Homo sapiens: one gene and its partners. The main gene of each other region encodes a partner of the protein of the gene in region 2 in a complex. Each region holds a gene or a part of one and is shown on either strand. Other genes may lie near its edges.

Region 1 (3,653 bases), on a different chromosome or scaffold from region 2:
TATAAACCATGAAAAAGAAATAGGCCAGGCGTGGTGGCTCACGCCTATAATTCCAGCAGTTTGGGAGGCCAAGGCGGGCGGATCACGAGGTCAGGAGATCGAGATCATCCTGGCTAACATGGTGAAACCCCGTCTCTACTAAAAAATACAAAAAATTAGCTGGGCATGGTGGCGGGCACCTGTAGTCCCAGCTACTCGGGAGGCTGAGGCAGGAGAATGGGGTGAACCTGGGAAGCAGAGCTCTCAGTGAGCCGAGATCACGCCACTGCACTCCAGCCTGGGCAACAGAGCGAGACTCCGTCTCAAAAAAAAAAAAAGAAATAAAGAATTACAGTCGGTAAAAAGATTACAAGCTTATTATAATGCCTATAAAGTAAAAATCTCCCTTCCTAACCCCCTGCACTGTGGGTATGTAGGAATATTATTCCAGATCACTTTATATGCATTCAGAAGGATATATACAGATTTCTTTTGACATAAATTGGGTCATATTTTATTCACGTCTATAACTTGTAGTCCTCGTTTAGCAGTTTATATTGGACATATTTCCATTTCAACATACAAAACATTCTAAGAACTGAGGCTGGGCGTGATGGCTCATGCCTATTTATAATCCCAGCACTTTGGGAGGCCGAGGAGGGCGGATCATCTGAGGTCAGGAATTCAAGACCAGCCTGGCCAACATGGTGAAACTCCATCTCTACAAAAACACAAAAATTAGCTGGGCAGGATGGCGTACGCCTGTAATCCTAGCTACTCAGAAGGCTGAGGCAGGAGAATCGCTTAAACCTGGGAGGCAGAGATTGCAGTCAGCCAAGATCGCACCACTGCACTCCAACCTGGGGACAGAGCAAGACTCCATCTCAAAAAAAATTAAAAAAAAATAAAAATAAATTAGCGAGGCAAGGTGGCGCACGCCTGTAATCCCAGCTACTTGGAAGGCTGGGGCATGAGAATCGCTTGAACCCGGGAGGCAGCATTTGCAGTGAGGTGAGATTGTTCCACTGTACCCCAGCCTGAGTGACAGGGCAAGACTCCATCTCACAAAAAGCCAAAATAACAAAATAACATTCTAAGAACTGGAAAGTATTCCACTATATGGAAATGTCAAAATTTATTACCGCCTGTTGACGGACATTACTTTGGTTCAATTTTTTCCCATTACAAACCCAATTATGCAAACCCTCACCAACACAAGTTGCTATAAGTCTTTCAAATTTTTGTCAATTTGATGGGGAAAAAATTTGCTTTTCCTTAATTACCTGTGAGATTGAATATCTTATCTTTTTTTTTTGACACAGAGTCTCGCTCTGTCACCCAGGCTGGAGTGTAGTGGCACAATCTCGGCTCACTGCAACCTCCGCCTCCTAGGTTCACGCCATTCTCCTGCCTCAGCCTCCCGAGTAGCTGGGATTACAGGCGCTCGCCACCACACCTGGCTAATTTTTTGTATTTTTTTTTTAGTAGAGACGGGGTTTCACCATGTTAACCACGATGGCCTTGATCTTCTGACCTCGTGATCCACCCGCCTCGGCCTCCCAAAGTGCTGGGATTACAGGCATGAGCCACCGCGCCCTGCCTGAATATCTTTTCATTAACATGGGAAAACTATTTCTTCCGTGAATTACCTGTTCACATTATTGACATTCTCAATTAGGTTGAGTTTTTCTTTTATTTTCTACTGGTTTGCCAGTCATTCAAGTTTGTTGTTTATGGTTTCTTTAGTCACACAAACTTTTTTCACTTTTATGTTTTGAATTTGTTCACCCTCCTGGGATACATAATTTACCTAAGAAAGGGTTTTTTCTATGCCAAGATTGTAAAAAAATAGTGTCTTATTTTCTTCTACTTTTAGAGTTCTAATCTACTTGGAATTGATCTTTTTTATGCAGTGTAAGGCACAAATCTGTCTTTATTACTTTCCCCAACTGAATAGCCAGTTGCCTTGATAATATATAATGAACAATCTATCCACTTCTCACTTCATCTAAATTTCCGTTCTCCCCTTTTTATAAAATTTTGCAGAGGATGAAAAGTTAAAGGGTTTACAAATATTGTCAATTGCCAGTGCAGTGGCTCATGCCTGTAATTTCACCACTTTGAGAGGCCAAGGTGGGATGATCACTTGAGGCCAGGAGTTCGAGACCTGCCTGGTCAACAAAGCAAGATCCTGTCTCTACAAAAATAAAAATAAAAAAAAAATTAGTTGGCCGGGTGCGGTAGCTCATGCCTGTAACCCCAGCACTTTGGGAGGCCAAGGTGGGCGGGTCACAATGTCAGGAGTTGGAGACCAGCTTGGCCAATATGGTGAAATCCCATCTCTACTAAAAATACAAAAAATTAGCCAGGTGTGGTGGTGCAGGTCTGTAATCCCAGCTACTCAGGAGGCTGAGGCAGCAGAATCGCTTGAACCTGGGAGGCAGAGGTTGCAGTGAGCCAAGATCATGCCATTGCACTGCAGCCTGGGTGACAGAGCAAGACTCCATCTCGAAAAAAATACAAATAAAAAAATTAGCTGGGCCTGTTGGCTCATGCCTGTAGTCTCAGCTCCTCGGAGTCTGAGGTGGGAGGATCGCTAGAGCCCAGGACTTTGAGGCTGCAATGAGCCATGACTGTGTCACTGCCCTGGAGCCTGTGTGGCAGAGCAAGACTCCGTCTTTTTTTAAAATTCTATTTTTTTTTGAGACGGAGTCTCGCTCTGTCACCCAGGCTGGAGTGCAGTGGCATGATCTTGGCTCAATGCAACCTCCACCTCTTGGGTTCAAGCAATTCTCCTGCCTCAGCCTCCCAAGTAGCTGGGACTACAGGCGCCTGCCACCACACCTGGCTGATTTTTGTATTTTTAGTAGAGACAGGGTTTCACCCGTTGGGCTGGTCTCGAACTTCTGACCTCAGGTGATCTGCCCACCTTGGCCTCCCAAAGTGCTGGGATTACAGGCGTAAGCCACCAGGCCTGGCCCTTTTTTTTAAAGACAGTCTTCGCCAGGTGTGGTGGCTCATCCCTGTAATCCCAGCACTTTGGGAGGGCGAGGCAGGCGGATCACCTGAGGTCAGAAGTTCGAGACCAGCCTGGCCAACATGGCGAAACCCCGTCTCTGCTAAAAATACAAAAAAATTAGCCAGACTTGGTGGCACTTGACTGTAATCCCAGCTACTGGGGAGGCTGAGGCAGGAGAATTGCTTGAGCCTGGGAGGCAGAGGTTGCAGTGAGCCAAGACTGCACCACTAAACTCCAGCCTGGACAATAGAGTGAGACTTTGTCAAAAAAACAAACGAAAAAAAATTGATCACACCATCTCAAAGTAAGTTGTAGGCATTACGACACTTCAGCATGCATTTTCTAATGACATTCTCCTATATAACCATAATCTCACAATCACATCTAAGAAAATGAACCCCACACTATCATACAATACACAGTTCATATAAAAACTTTTAGTCTATAATATATACTTTGAATTAACAGATCCTATCATCACACTAAATGGTACACATAAGATAACCTATTATCCTCCCGCACTAGACTATTCTTGAGGGTAGGGATCGTAAGCTCTATATCTAATCCTAGACTGTAATAGGCACTGAATAATGTTGGCTGAAATGTTTTAATGAATAAAGGGAAACCAACCTTAAAATGCCTTTTTTTAATTTCT
Region 2 (3,653 bases):
AGATGGAGTCTCACTGTGTTGCCCAGGCTGGTTTTGAACTCTTGGGCTCCAGGAATCCTCCTGCCTCAGCCTCCCAAATAGCTGGGATTATAAGCACATGCCACCAGGCCCAGCTTTCTAATGCTTTATTTAAAATGTATACAATGCTATGTATCAATTGATGGAGCACCCTAAGATTTTAGAGGTCAGAAATGTAAAACAATGAATGTTTACCAGACTACCTAACAATGTAATTACTTTTGTATAGCCAGATTTCTATATTATCTATAATATATTCTAAAATAATATAGTCATTAAAATGACGTTTATGACATCAGATGTTGGCTGAGCAATGTTAAGAGAAAAAAGGAGCAAATAAGATTGTACACACAGTTCTGGCCAGGTGCGGTGGCTCACACTTGTAATCCCAGCATTTTGGGAGGCCAAGGCGGGCGGATCACAAGGTCAGGAGATCGAGACCATCCTGGCTAACACGGTGAAACCCCATCTCTATTAAAAATACAAAAAAATTAGCCGGGCATGGTGGCGGGCACCTGTAATCCCAGCTACTCAGGAGGCTGAGGCAGGAGAATGGTGTGAACCCCGGAGACGGAGCTTGCAGTGAGCCGAGATCGCACCACTGCACTCCAGACTGGGCGACAGAGCAAGACTCCGTCTCAAAAAAATAAAATAAAATAAATAAATAAATAAAAAAGATTGTACACATAGTTCTAACAAATATGCAACAACTAAACAGTTCTGAGTAGAAAAAAAGGCATTAGAAAAATGTATAAAATTAACAGTGATTGGCCAGGCACGGTGGCTCATGCCTGTAATCCCAGCACTTTGGGAGGCTGAGGTGGGCGGATCACCTGCGGTTGGGAGTTCAAGACCAGCCTGACCAACATGGAGAAACCCAGTCTCTACAAAAAATACAAAATTAGCCAGGCACGGTGATGCATCCCTGTAATCCCAGCTATTCTGGAGGCTGAGGCAAGAGAAACACGTGAACCTGGGAGGCGGAGGTTGCAGTGAGCCGAGATCGTGCCATTGCACTCCAGCCTGGGCAACAAGAGTGAAATTCCGTCTCAAAAAAAAAAAATTAACACTGATTATCTTTGGAGTGGTAGAAATATAGACTATTTTTTCATCTTTCTGCTTTTTTTGGTTTCTCAAAAGAAATGATTTTTATAATAGAAATAGCTGATTTCAGGCCAGGCATGGTGGTTAATTATTGTAATCACAGCATTTTTGGGAGGCTGAGGCAGGTGGACTGCTTGAGCTCAGGAGCAATATAGCAAGACCATGTCTCCACAAATGATTTTTAAAAATTAGCTGGGCATGGAGGCGTGGGCTTGTGGCCCCAGCTATTTGGGAGGCTGAAGTGGGAGGATCCCTCGAGCAAGAGGTTGAGGCTGCAGTGAGCCATGTTTGTGTCACTGCACTCCAGCCTACATATAAAAATCACATTTATTTTATGTCTTAAAAAAAGAAAAATTTGTCTGGGTTGTTGAAATGACCGATGTAACATCTTTATATTTGCATACACAGACTATAAACACCTCACTTGGGGTGACAGTGATAAATCGGATACTAAAGTAGCTACCCAAAATTAGTAGTTTTTGATAGCAGGGTCTCCTGAGAAAGGATGAAAGGTGAAAGGACGCCAAGAATTAGTATGAGAAGCTGTCCTTCCATTATGCAGAATACTCACCTGCCATCTGTGTTGTAATGCAATTCCATCACTGCTCCACTGTGTCCCTTCAGTGTGGCATAGTTATCACAGTCACCATAGACATTCCACAGTACTGTTAGGGAGATGGGTTCTGTGAGCATTACTAGGCAAAGGGTACTTATAAATTTATCAGAACAACAGTTCTCAGGTCAGGCACGGTGGCTCACACCTGTAATCCCAGCACTTTGGGAGGCCGAGACGGGTGGATCACTTGAGGTCAGGAGTTCGAGACCAGCGTGGCTGATACGGCGAAACCCCATCTTTAATAAAAATAAAAAAATCAGCCAGGTGTAGTGGCAGACGCCTACAATCCCAGCTCTTGGGAGACTGAGGCAGGAGAATCACTTGAACCCAGGAGACGGAGGATGCAGTGAGCCGAGATCGCGCCACGGCACTCCAACCTGGGTGACAGAGTGAGACTCCGTCTCTAAAAAGCCAACCGACCAACCAAACAAAAAAAACTATGTAGTTTGTCTGATGAAATTAAGCCTATCAATAATTCATATATGTTCTGCAAAGATCCCTAAGCAATCCAGACGTTTGGCCACTAGTAAGCTTAAGGATCATAGAGCCGGAACATCCAAATCAAAATGGGCAGTGAAGACGGGTATCATCCACCCGGCACCGAGGAAAAGAGTTAACAGAAAAGAGCCAAATAACTCATTTCATCTCATAATCTGGCAAGAAAGTAGCAACAGAAGCATCTGATTTTTTTTCCTTCTGGCTTCATTTGCTGGAGTATAAATAAAACGACTTTTTCTACTTACTTCTCAAAAATGGGTATGAGAAATTCTTATTTCTCAAAAATGGAAATCTGGTAGTAGATCCTAATGATGTACAGGTAGATTATTTAAGGGAGTTACCACTTTAGGATTCCTTCCTTCCCATATGCTAGCTAGGATTCTGGGTGTGAATTAAGAGGACCTTATACCTTTGGGAAAATAAAAGTTATTTCTCTCCTCATTACTGCCATTAACCTGTTATGTCTAGATTGCTAAGTGCCTTGGTAAATTAGCTGGAGATTTGCCTCTATGAGGAAGACATTCTCAAACCAGAACAACTCACTTTCCAACTAGTAAAATAATGGCTTCTGTATTTACCCCATGGACTCCAAGTTCTACACCCAAGATCATTCAGCATGTTCATGCCCCAATTTTAGCATATTAGCCATGCAGCCTGTTATGTTGCCAACATAGAGTGATACCTTCTGTGGCACCCAAGATTTAAAAAAAAAAATCACTATCTGGCAGGAAAAATTATTCCAGATTCAAAAACTATGCCTCACATATCAGTCGGTCAAATCCTGCAGATGCTAAGGTGGATCCGTTGGGGTGGAACTTGCAGCAGTAGACTTCCCCTTCATGTCCAGAGAGCAGCATGATTGGGGCTTGAAGGGAGGAACATCTTGGAGGTCCCTAAACAAAAGAGAAGCACAAGGTAACTACTGCATACAGACAAAGGAGGCTACAAAATTAGGGGGTGGGGAGTGGAGGGAAAAGACCAAGAAAACAATGATTAAGTGGGTTTCATCTGACTTACAGAATGGTAGCTCTTCTCATATGAATGCCTCCAACTTGACACTCTCTGAAACTTTCCATTATCTACCTGTTATAATGACTCTCTTGTTCACTCTCTCAGCTCTTGTTGTACGACCAACTTTTTTTTGGAGATAGGGTCTCACTCTGTCACCTAGGCTGGACTGCAGTAGTGTGATCATGGTTCACTGCAGCTTCAAACTCCTTGGCTCAAGTGATCCTCCTGCCTCAGCCTCCTGAGTAGCCAGGACTACAGGCATGAACTAGCATGCCATGCTAATTTTTTTAGTTTTTGTGGAGATGAGGTCTTGCTACGTTGCCTAGGCTGGTCTCAAAATCCTGGCCTCCCTCCTTGGCCTCCCAAAGCACTAAGATTATAGGAATGAGCCACCACATTTGGCCTG
Region 3 (3,653 bases), on a different chromosome or scaffold from region 2:
TGAGGTGGGAGGATCGCCTGAGCCTGGGAGGTTGAGGCTGCAGTGAGCCATGATCATACCACTGTACTCCAGCCTGGGCAACAGAGCGAGACCGTCTCAAAAAAAAAAAAAAAAAAAAAAAAAACCAAAGAAAAAAGAAAAAAAAATGTTTGCTAAACAACTGAATTTCTACATTCTAAAACTTTGCATCCCATTTCAATAACTCAAGAACTGTACTTGAATGTCTATGTAACTTTCAGGCTTAGCTTTATTTTCCAGATATCTGACTAGTCTCTCAAATGTTGACTTTTAGTCCATGGTCTCATAATAAAATGAAGCATTATAGAACCAGCTCAAGATACCATCCAGTTACAAAATACCAATCAACTCAAATCAGACCAGTCGGCAACCTCTTTGTTTAGGGTGAGTATATAAATTCTCTTAAGAAACCTGAAATGGTCTTCTTTATCCATCAAAAATAAAATCATGAACTATGATTCAGGGAAGATGAAACAGTAACTAGCAAATCTATCCCACAATCTACAGATTCTTAACAACTCCTAGAAACTTTGGCAATTATTAGAGATATATAGCTTAAGCCTTCACTACTACAGAGCCCAGTAGTTGAATATTAAAGCACTTAAAGTATCCAAGCATTTACTCTGTTCTTTTGTCATATAATCTTTTACATCAGTTTACTTTCTTTTAGAAATAATTTTTAGATATAAATTTGAGTTTTCTAAATACCATCTTGTATTTATATGACACTTTATTCTACTTATTCCTTCTCTATGTGCTTCTGCTAGCTACAATTCACTAAAAGAACTGATATGGGGCCGGGTGCGGTGGCTCACACCTGCAATCTAAGCCCTTTGGGTGGCCGAGGCCGGCGGATCACAAGGTCGGGAGATCAAGACCAACCTGGCCAACAGGGTGAAACCCCGTTTCTACTAAAATACGAAAAATTAGCCGGACGTGGTGGCATGCGCCTGTAGTCCCAGCTACTCAGGAGGCTGAGGCAGGGCAATCGCTTCAACCTGGGAGGTGGAGGCTGCAGTGAGCTGAGATCATGCCACCGTACTCCAGCCTAGTGACAGAGCGAGACTCCGTCTCAAAAAAAAAAAAGGAACTGACACGGTATTCACGTGCCTGGCATACTAACATTTCTATTACATTAAAAAAGTCACCAAATTGGGCATTCCTTTTTGAAAATGCTCAGTTAAACCACGTGTTGTTTCAACTACAGTTATGCAGGCTGTAGTTGTTTTACTGGTGTTTTCCAGTAGGTTATACTAATAGAGACTGATTTGACAACTTAATTACCTTTGCATTTTTCCAGTTAGAAATACAAGGAGGAATCTTCCACTCTTGTTGTTCCTTTACAGTCATCTGAGAGAAGAGGGAAAGAAGAGACAAGTTTAGATTTATAGTCTACAAAGTAAATCTAAGTATAATCTTTATCTTCAAAGACAGCTCCATATACACTGACATATGCACAGCCGTAGTAAAAGGCCAGCAGTCCATTTGTTTGCTAGCACTAGTTTACCATATAATTCTAGTAATAACTTTGAACTAGTGTGAAAAATGGAAAATAATCTAGAAATTATTCTTGACAGTTATAAATGTTGGCTAGTATTTTTCCATATTTAAAGTGATGTGACTTTTTTCTTTTTTTTATTGAGACGGGGTTTCGCTTTTGTTGCCCAGGATGGAGTGCAATGGTGCAATCTTGGCTCACCACAACCTCCGCCTCCTGGGTTCAAGTGATTCTCCTGCCTCAGCCTCCCAAGTAGCTGGGATTATAGGCATGCGCCACCATGCCCAGCTAATTTTTTTTAAAGTAAAGACGGGGTTTCTCCATGTTGGTCAGGCCGGTCTTGAACTCCCGACTTCAGGTGATCTGCCCGCCTCGGCCTCCCAAAGTGCTGGGATTACAGGCGTGAGCCACCACGCCCGGCCGATGTGACTTCTTTTGGATGAAAAATTGTTCTTTTGATTAACAAAACATATCTTAAAAAGTCAAATTACCAGGGACCTAATGAACCCATATATTCACTTCCTATAACATCCTTAAACTGAAACAGCAGACCCTGTCCATTCCATTAAAAGTAGGGTTTGCATTACTAATAACAAAACTTACAGCTAACATGTTATATACATTCTCATAAGCATTCTTGAAACTTCATCTTGAAAAATAAAAAAAGAAACTACAAGTCAGTGTGGTGACATGCACCTGTATAGGCATAGGGAGGTTATCTATAAAATTAATAACCATGAGTAGAAAAAAATATTTTGGACTACAGCAAAGAATACCTTTCGGCTAGGAGAATGCATGACAGGCGCAGGAGGAGAAGGTGGTCCCCGGGGAATTTTCTTATTAATCCTGAAGTATAAAAACACAACCAGAGAGTGATATAGTTTCCTCCCTTTTAGTCATCATATCAAGTCTCTCCTCCTTTTTCTTGCATAAAAGTTTCAAACATAGACAAAAACAGAGACTGTATAATGATATACATTTACCACTCCACTTTGACAATGAATAAAACATGGCCAACTTTGAAACTGTTACTCACCCCACCTCCACAACATTATTGTCATTTTGCAGAGTAATATACTTTTTTCCACTTTAAAAAGCAGCTTTAGGTCGGGTGCAGTGGCTCATGCCTGTAATCCCAGCACTTTGGGAGGCCAAGGTGGGCAGATCGCCTGACGTCAGGAGATCGAGACCATCCTGGCTAACATGGTGAAACCCTGTCTCTACTAAAAATACAAAAACTTAGCTGGGCATTGTGGTACACGCCTGTAAACCCAGCTACTCAGGAGGCTGAGACAAGAGAATCGCTTGAACCCAGGAGGCAGAGGTTGCAGTGAGCTGAGATCATGCCACTGCACTCCAGCCTGGGTGACAGAGCGAGACTGTCTCTCAAAAAACAAAAACAAAAACAAAAACAAAAACAAAAAAAGGCAGCTTTATTGAGATAATTGACATTTATTAGCTATACATATTTAAAGCATACGATTTGATTAAATTTTGACACAAATATGCACCTGTGAAATCATCATCACAAGCAAGATAGTGAACATGTCTATCATCCCCAAAAGTTTCTGCTTGCCCCTTGCCTATTCCTCTTGTCCCTCCCATCTCCTCTCTGTCCCTACCTCCTTCCCCAGAGGCAACCACCTATCTACTTTCTGTAACTATAGGTTAGTTTGCATTTCCTGGAGTTTTAGATAAATGGAATCATACTGTATGTACTTGTTTTTGCCTGGCTTCTTTCACTCAGCATATTGTTTTGAGATTCATCCATGTTATTGTGTGTATTAGTAGCCTATTCCTTTTCACTTACTTGAACCTTGGAGGCTCCATTGGATCTTTCTGCATTTCTACCATCCGAATAACCCTCTGTTTAGCTCCAGAGTTGAATGCCACTCCTTGCTGAGATGGTGTGTATCTGAAGAAAGCAGATAAAAACTAAAGGTGTAATTAGTTCAAGCTTTCAGTAGGTATTTTCCTTCTATTACAATCTTAAGCTAGACTACATTTTCAATTCCTTTCGCAAAGTATTAACAGAAAATTAACAAAATATTTAGACAAAGCAGACAGCAAGAGGGATAAAAGAACATAAATTATGAGTTACAGTCAAAATATAAACTTGAGTGGTATTAGTTTGCAA

Evidence for each region.
Region 1: SNRNP40 (region 2) and SNRPD1 share a complex: the UniProt entries of both Homo sapiens proteins name them as parts of the U4/U6-U5 tri-snRNP complex.
Region 3: SNRNP40 (region 2) and SNW1 share a complex: the UniProt entries of both Homo sapiens proteins name them as parts of the minor spliceosome.

Annotation. Positions count from the first base shown.
Region 1 is NC_000018.10:21,618,809-21,622,461, reverse strand, and holds part of SNRPD1 (small nuclear ribonucleoprotein Sm D1), read right to left. Parts: intron 1-3,653. UniProt on the Homo sapiens protein: Plays a role in pre-mRNA splicing as a core component of the spliceosomal U1, U2, U4 and U5 small nuclear ribonucleoproteins (snRNPs), the building blocks of the spliceosome.
Region 2 is NC_000001.11:31,290,220-31,293,872, forward strand, and holds part of SNRNP40 (U5 small nuclear ribonucleoprotein 40 kDa protein), read right to left. Parts: intron 3,130-3,653; coding exon 3,000-3,129; intron 1,788-2,999; coding exon 1,694-1,787; intron 1-1,693. UniProt on the Homo sapiens protein: Required for pre-mRNA splicing as component of the activated spliceosome. Component of the U5 small nuclear ribonucleoprotein (snRNP) complex and the U4/U6-U5 tri-snRNP complex, building blocks of the spliceosome.
Region 3 is NC_000014.9:77,733,645-77,737,297, forward strand, and holds part of SNW1 (SNW domain-containing protein 1), read right to left. Parts: intron 3,432-3,653; coding exon 3,327-3,431; intron 2,363-3,326; coding exon 2,293-2,362; intron 1,369-2,292; coding exon 1,303-1,368; intron 1-1,302. UniProt on the Homo sapiens protein: Involved in pre-mRNA splicing as component of the spliceosome. As a component of the minor spliceosome, involved in the splicing of U12-type introns in pre-mRNAs.